Linked DNA regions of Homo sapiens. The protein of the gene in region 1 interacts with the protein of each later gene in a pairwise test. Each region holds a gene or a part of one and is shown on either strand. Other genes may lie near its edges.

Region 1 (3,815 bases):
TGCTGTTTATCAACACCCGACGCTGGTGACTTCTGATGCCATCCTTGAAGACACAGTGTTCTGGCTGATGGAGGCTCTGCTGGCTTCTCAGAGCCACAGAAACGGGGCAATCTTCTTGGCTGTGATCTGAAAAAACCCACATACGTTCTGTACGGAAACAGACTGTTTAATAGTGGGAGGGAAAACCCAACATGAAATATAAAACAAGTAATCATGCGCCTTGTGAGTTTTGGTTTCTGTTGTTTCTTTCTGGGTGTATGTGTTTTGATGGCAACGTCGGTCTGAACAGCCTGCTCCAGCATTTCTCGGGGAAGAAGCTGAGGATGCGGTTGGTCCCAGGGATCGAAAGGCCTGCTGACACGCCCTCAGCTTCGCCAGCCACCAAAACCCTGGACAGACCTGCAAGGAAGCACAGGACAGTGGTGGAGTCAGCTGCTCTGTCACAGAGCAGTCACAGGCTCTGCTGCTCTGCCTGTGTGCAAAGGTCAGGACTCAGATTTTTTATTATTATTTTTTTGATACAGAGTCTCACTCTATTGCCCAGGCTGGAGTGCAGTGGCGTGATCTCAGCTCACTGCAACCTCTGTCTCTCGGGCTCAAGTGCTTCTTTTGCCTCAGCCTCAGTGGCTGGGATTACAGGCATGCACCACCACGCCTGGCTAATTCTTGTGTGTTTATCTATATATGTATATATATATATTTTTAGTAGAGATGGGGTTTCACCATGTTGGCCAGGCTGGTCTCGAACTCCTGACCTCAAATATCTGCCCACCTTGGCCTGCCAAAGTGCTGGGATTACAGGTGTGAGCCACCGTGCTTGGCCAGTATATATATTTTTTTCTTTTGATATAGGGTCTGGCTGTCACCCAGGCTAGACGGTAGTGGTACCATCTTGGCTCACTGCAGCCTCAACCTCCCAGGCTCAAGTGATCCTCCCGCCTCAGCTTCTGGAGTAGCTGGGACCACAGGCATAAGCCAGCATGCACGGCTAATTTTTTTAATTTTTAGTAGAGATGGGGTCTCACTCTGTTGCCCAGGCTGGTCTTGACTCCTGGGCTCAAGCAATCCTCCCACCTCAGCCTCCCAAAGTGCTGGGATTATAGGCGTGAACCACCCACCTGGCTAAGACTGAATTTTAACGCCATGAAATTTTACACAGAAGCACAGAGGGTGGATCAACACATGAGACCTGGTGATGGCCCAGAGCCCAGGGGTTAGCATGCAGCTTCTGAGAAACCTCCAGGGAAGTCAGGAGCAGCATCTCCTCAGCGCTGCCCTCAGGCCCAGCTCACTGGCAGGCGTGCTCTTTTCTCTTTGAACCACGCCTCTTAAGAAGGCGAGGCCTGGCACCTCCTGCCATATTGCTACAGAGAAGAGCAAGTCCACAAAACCCAAACCCTGCTGCTGAACCCCCACACTTCCAGGACAAACTCTAAAAACAGGAAAAAACGAAAAGAAAATGCACAAATCCAGCAAGATCCACACACTTCCAACCTTATTTAATGCTTTTAATTAAGGTGAGACTCAAAAAGGGGGATACTTACGAGTTATTTGACCCAAAGCTGAACCCTGAAAAGCAGAATAAGAGTGAAGTTAAAGCACGCATCCACTCGAAAGACAAAGGTGGTCCCCATGCTAAGTGTCTGCCCTCCTCTGTGCTTCTTGTGGGAAGCCCTCCGTGCCTCCACCACCTACAGGAAGGCAGGAAAGGTACACACAGAAGCCCCTTTATTCTGAGTTTGTCCTCTGGAGCTACTCAGATCCCCCAGAAGGCAGAAAAAATCCTTTACTTTTTATGAGTTATCTTCTTGGTATTTTAGGGTTCTTCCTCCCTCCTCGGCCCCAGCTGTAGGCAGAGGGTCTCTGGCTTGGCCTCTCAGCTGTACTGGACCACATAGATCCATTCATTAGGAAAACCTTTTTTTTTTTTTTTTTTTTTTGCTGTTGTTGTTTTTCCATCCATTTGCTTCCTCTTCTTTTTGGGGGCCAGAGAAGCAAGATGGCTGGATTCTAGGCCTGGTTCTACTGCTAACTGCTAACACTTAGTTCCTTGGAGTTTCTGTTTCTTCACGGGTACAATTGTAATGATACCTAAATTCTGTGCCTTGTCAGTTTACTGCAAGAACAAAATGGAAGACACATATTCTGCCATCTGAAGAAGCAGAGTGTTAAACAAATGCAAGATGTTTTGTGAAGTTTCTATGCCTTTTTTTTTTTTTTTGAGTCTGCTGGCTTAGATTTTTTAAACCAAGGCCTAGTAAGACCATTATTATTTTGGGCTTCTCAAATCCTGAGAGGAAATCAAGACAGTAATTTCTTTGGTAAGAAATGACACAGTGTTCTAAGTCTAACTAAAACCTAAAAAAAAATATATATGCCAGGTGCTGTAATCCCAGCACTCTGGGAGGCCGAGGTGGGTGGATCATGAGGTCAGGAGATGGAGACCATCCTGGCTAACACAGTGAAACCCCATCTCTACTAAAAACACAAAAAATTAGCCGGGCCTGGTGGCGGGCGCCTGTAGACCCAGCTACTCAAAGGCTGAGGCAGGAGAATGGCGTGAACCCGGGAGGCGGAGTTTATAGTGAGCCGAGATTGTGCCACTGCACTCCATCCTGGGCAACAGAGCGAGACTCCGTCTCAAAAATATATATATATATATATGTTTCAACCACTTTCAGTATGTTACATATTTATTTATTTTGAGACAGGGTCTCATTCTGTCACCCAGGCTGGAGTGCAGTGGTGCAATCACAGCTCACTGCAGCGCTCAAGTGATCCTCCTGCTTCAGCCTCCCGAGTAGCTGGGACCACAGGTGTGTGCCACCATGTCTGGCGAATTTTAACATTTTTTGTAGAGAATGGAGTCTTGCCATGTTGCCCAGGCTAGTCTCAAACTCCTGGGCTCAAGTGATCCTCCTGCCTTGGTCTCCCAAAGTGCTGGGATTACAGGCGTGAACCACGTGCCCAGTCAGCTTTTAAAATACTAAACAGACTGGTCAGGTAAAACATACTCATTTCTTTGGGGGAGAAGGCAAGAGGGACCCATTTTGCTTGTGAGGGGAGAACTTGTGGCAGCTTACCTCCTGTGCCTGATCCAAAACCAGAGAATCCGCTACTCTGGGTCCCAAAACCAGAAGTCTGTTGGGACAGTGATCCGAAAGTGGGGGCATTCTGACTCGCGAGCGTGCCGAAGGATGTGGTGTTGCTGCTGCTCCCAAACCTGCGCTCCAGTGAGAAACAGACTGAGGTCAGTGGGGCCTCTCACCACTTGCCCATCTGCAAGCCTCAGCCCCCTGCTGTAAGTCCCAATACACACGACACTCATGATCCAGGGTGACAGGCTGGGCCTAACTAGCAGCCTTTCAGAGAGAATGAGCTATCGCCCAGGGCCAACTTTTATCTCTGCTCTAGGAAGAAAAATGGCAGGACTACAGTATGAAATCCAACCTGGCCAGTGTTTTAGTTTCCATCCCCCATTGGAACACCAGGGCATTTGGGAACTATGCAGTACACAGTTCCTGCTCTACCTCCAACAATCCTTAAGCTTTATTCTATCATTTTAGCATTTCTCACTTACCGACCATTCCCCCACATCCTGCTCCCATTTATTTATCTTCAGCTCCTCTTGGGATCTTGATTCTATTTACTTTTTCCAAGTCATTTCATTCAGGATTTTGTATTTGCTTCCTGAATCAATAATTACTACCCAAACCAATGTAAAAGTGGCCACTATTTTCCTTCCCCTGCTCGCCCCACCTGGAGACAATCCCCTGTGCCCCCTCACTCAGTTCTCCCTCCAGATATGGTCCAGC
Region 2 (3,815 bases), on another chromosome or scaffold:
CATTCCTATAGTCCCAGCTACTCAGGAGGTTGAGATGGGAGGATCACTGGAGCCTAGGAAGTCAAGGCGGCAGTGAGCCACTGCACTCCAGCCTGGGTGACAGGAATGAGACTGTGTCTCAAAAATAAAAAACAAGTTACAGCTTTTGCTTTAGAAAACTTGGAAAGTACAGAAATATATAAATAAAATAAAAATAACCTGATATCACAGAGGTAACTACTACATTTTAGTATATTTCTTTCGAAACATATACACACACAAACATATTTCTTGTTTATGTATACAATTGACCCTTGAACAACATAAAGTTTAGCGGCACTGATCCTCTGTGCAGTCAAAAATCCACGTATAAGCTTTGACTCCCCAAAAGCTTAACTACTAATAACGTACTGTAAGAGAAAAGAAAATGTTAAGAAAATCATAACGGATCAGGCGCGGTGGCTCACGCCTGTAATCTCGGCACTTTGGGAGGCTGAGGCGGGTGGATCACAAGGTCAGGAGTTCGAGACCAACCTGGCCAATGTGGTGAAACCCCATCTCTACTAAAAATACAAAAAAAATTAGCCGGGCTTGGTGGTGCATGCCTGTAATCCCAACTACTGTGGAGGCTGAGGCAGGAGAATTGCCTGAACCCAGGAGGCCGAGGTTGCAGTAAGCCGAGATGATGCCACTGCACTCCAGCCTGGGCAACAGAGCAAGACTTCATCTCAAAAAAAAAAAAAAAAAGAAAAAGAAAATCATAAGGATAAGAAAATATATTGACCATTCACATAGTGGAAGTGGATCATCATAAAAGTCTTCATCCTTATTGTCTTTATGTTGAGTAGCAGAGGGATAGGTGGGTGTGGTCTTGCTGTCTCAGGAGTGGCAGAGGCGGAAGAAAATCCCTGTACAAGTGGCCCCTGTACAAGTGGACCCTGTACAGCTGTGTGTACAGTTGACCTTTGAACAGAACTGCAAGGGTCCACTTGTACAGGGATGTATAAGTTGTTCTATGTGTGTATATATGTATACCTATGTGTCCGGAATTGGTGGGTTCTTGGTCTCACTGACTTCAAGAATGAAGCCACGGACCCTCGCGGTGAGTGTTACAGTTCTTAAAGACATCGTGTCCGGAGTTTGTTCCTTCTGATGTTCAGATGTGTTCGGAGTTTATTCCTTCTGGTGGGGTCCGTGGTCTCGCTGGCTCAGGAGTGAAGCTGTGGACCTTCGCGGTGAGTGTTACGGCTCTTAAGGCGGCCCGTCTGGAGTTGTTTGTTCCTCCCAGTGGGTTCGTGGTCTCGCTGGCTTCAGGAGTGAGGCTGAAGACCTTCGCGGTGAGTGTTACAGCTCATAAAGGCAATGTGGACCCAAAGAGTGAGCAACAGCAAGATTTATTGCAAACAGCAAAAGAACGAAGCTTCCACAGTGTGGAAGAGGAGCTGAGCGGGTTGCCACTGCTGGCTGGGGCAGCCTGCTTTTATTCTCTTATCTGGCCCCACCCACATCGTGCTGATTGGTTCATTTTACAGAGAGCCAAGTGGTCTGTTTTGACAGGGTGCTGATTGGTGCGTTTACAATCCCTGAGCTAGACACAAAGGTTCTCCAAGTCCCCACTAGATTAGCTAGATACAGAGTGTGGACACAAAGGTTCTCCAAGTCCCAACCAGAGTAGCTAGATACAGTGTTGATTGGTGTATTTACAAACCCTGACCTACACACAGGGTGCTGATTGGTGTGTTTACAAACCTTGAGCTAGACACAGAGTGCTGATTGGTGTATTTACAATCCCCTAGCTAGACATAAAGGTTCTCCAAGTCCCCACCAGACTCAGGAGCCCAGCTGGCCTCACCCAGTGGATTCCACACCAGGGCCACAGGTGGAGCTACCCGCCAGTCCCGCGGTGTGTGCCCACACTCCTCAGCCCTTGGGTGGTCGATGGGACTGGGTGCCGGTGGAGCAGGGGGTGGCGCTCCTCGTGGAGGCTCAGGCTGCTCAGGAGCGCACGGAGGTGAGGGGGAGGCTCAGGCATGGCGGGCTGCAGGTCCCGAGCCCTGCCCCGCAGGGAGGCAGCTAAGACCCGGCAAGAAATCCAGCGCAGCGCCGGTGGGCCGGCACTGCTGAGGACCCAGCACACCCTCCGCAGCCGCTGGCCCGGGTGCTAAGCTTCTCATTGCCCGGCAGGGCCAGCCGGCAGCTCTGAGTGTGGGGCCCACCAAGCCCACGCCCACTCGGAACTCCAGCTGGCCAGCAAGGGCCCTGGGTAGCTCTGGTTGCCACTCGCGCCTCTCCCTCCACACCTCCCTGCAAGCTGAGGGAGCCAGCTCAGGCCTTGGCCAGCCCAGAAAGGGGCTCCCACAGTGCAGCGGTGGGCTGAAGGTCTCCTCAAGTGCCACCAAAGTGGGAGCCCAGGTAGAGGAGGTACCCAGAGCGAGTGAGGAATGTGAGGGCTGCCAGCAAGCTGTCACCTCTCACCTATACATATATACGTATACATATATATGATTAGGATCATAATCTAGTTTTTCTTTGTTTTTTGTTTTGTTTTGTTTTTTTGAGACAGAGTTTCGCTCTTTGTTGCCCAGGCTGGAGTGCAGTGGCGCCATCTCAGCTCACTACAGCCTCGGCTGGCCTTCCGGGTTCAAGCGATTCTCCAGTCTCAGTCTCCCGAGTAGCTCGGATTATAGGCATATGCCACCACGCCGAGCTAATTTTGGTATTTTTAGTAGAAACAGGGTTTCGCCGTGTTGGCCCGGCTGGTCTTGAACTTCTGGCCTCAGGTGATCCACCGGCCTTGGTCTCCCAAAGTGCTGGGACTACAGGCGTGAGCCACCGCGCCCGGCTGTAATCCAGTTTTTTTTGTTTTTGCTTTTGTTTTTGTTTTTGTTTTGAGACGGAGTCTCGCTTTGTTGCCCAGGCTGGAGTGCAGTGGCGCAGTCTTGGCTCACTGCAACCTCTGCCTCCCAAGTTCAAGCAATTCTCCTGCCTCAGCCTCCCGAGTAGCTGGGATTACAGGCTCATGCCACCACACCCGGCTAATTTTTTGTATTTTTAGTAGAGAGGGGGTTTCACCATGTTAGCCAGGATGGTCTCAATTTCCTGACCTCGTGATCCATCCGCCTCAGCCTCCCAAAGTGCTGCAACTACAGGCGTGAGCCACCGTGCCCGGCCCTAGTTTTATATTCTAATTTTTGCTTTCAGTTTGTCTCTGGTACTAAAAATATTAGAATGAACACCCTTATACATAGCAACCTTTGTTTACATATATAACTATTTCCCAAGGTTAAATCCTATAAATTGTATTATAAGTCACAGGATATGAATGTTTTTCAGGCTTGTGATGCTTATTAACAATTATCCCTCCCAGAAAACTTGTACCATTTTAATTCCCTTAACGGTAATTTAGGAAATGATACATTTCACCACATTTGGAACAACAGTAAATACCAGCTTTTAAAATTTCTGCCAGTCTGATAAGTAAAGCATTTTATCTCTATTTTAAGTTGCATTTAACTTTATTTCATTTATTTACTATTTGATTTTTTTTGTGTGTGAATTGCCTGTTCATTATCTTTGCCCAAATTCATTTACTTTTCTCATTTATTTGTAAGAGCTATTTGTACATTAGGGCATTAGTTCTTCTCTTGTCATATATGTTAAAATTGCAATTTTCCTAGTGTACCATTTGCCTTGTAATTTTGCTTAGTATAGTTTCTGGCAGAATTTTTAAAATAAAAGTTTGAATATAAATGTAGTCAAATCTTTCTCCTGTGTTTGTTGTTCATTCTACGCCACTTATCTTTAGAAAATCTTCCCCATTTAAAGATCAGAATAAC

The links.
Region 2: the proteins of NUP214 (region 1) and NUP42 interact in a two-hybrid assay, tested with the Homo sapiens proteins (one study listed by BioGRID).

What each region holds. Positions count from the first base shown.
Region 1 is NC_000009.12:131,230,038-131,233,852, reverse strand, and holds part of NUP214 (nuclear pore complex protein Nup214), read right to left. Parts: intron 3,224-3,815; coding exon 3,084-3,223; intron 1,570-3,083; coding exon 1,545-1,569; intron 400-1,544; coding exon 366-399; 3' UTR 1-365. UniProt on the Homo sapiens protein: Part of the nuclear pore complex. Has a critical role in nucleocytoplasmic transport.
Region 2 is NC_000007.14:23,191,838-23,195,652, forward strand, and holds part of NUP42 (nucleoporin NUP42), read left to right. Parts: intron 1-3,815.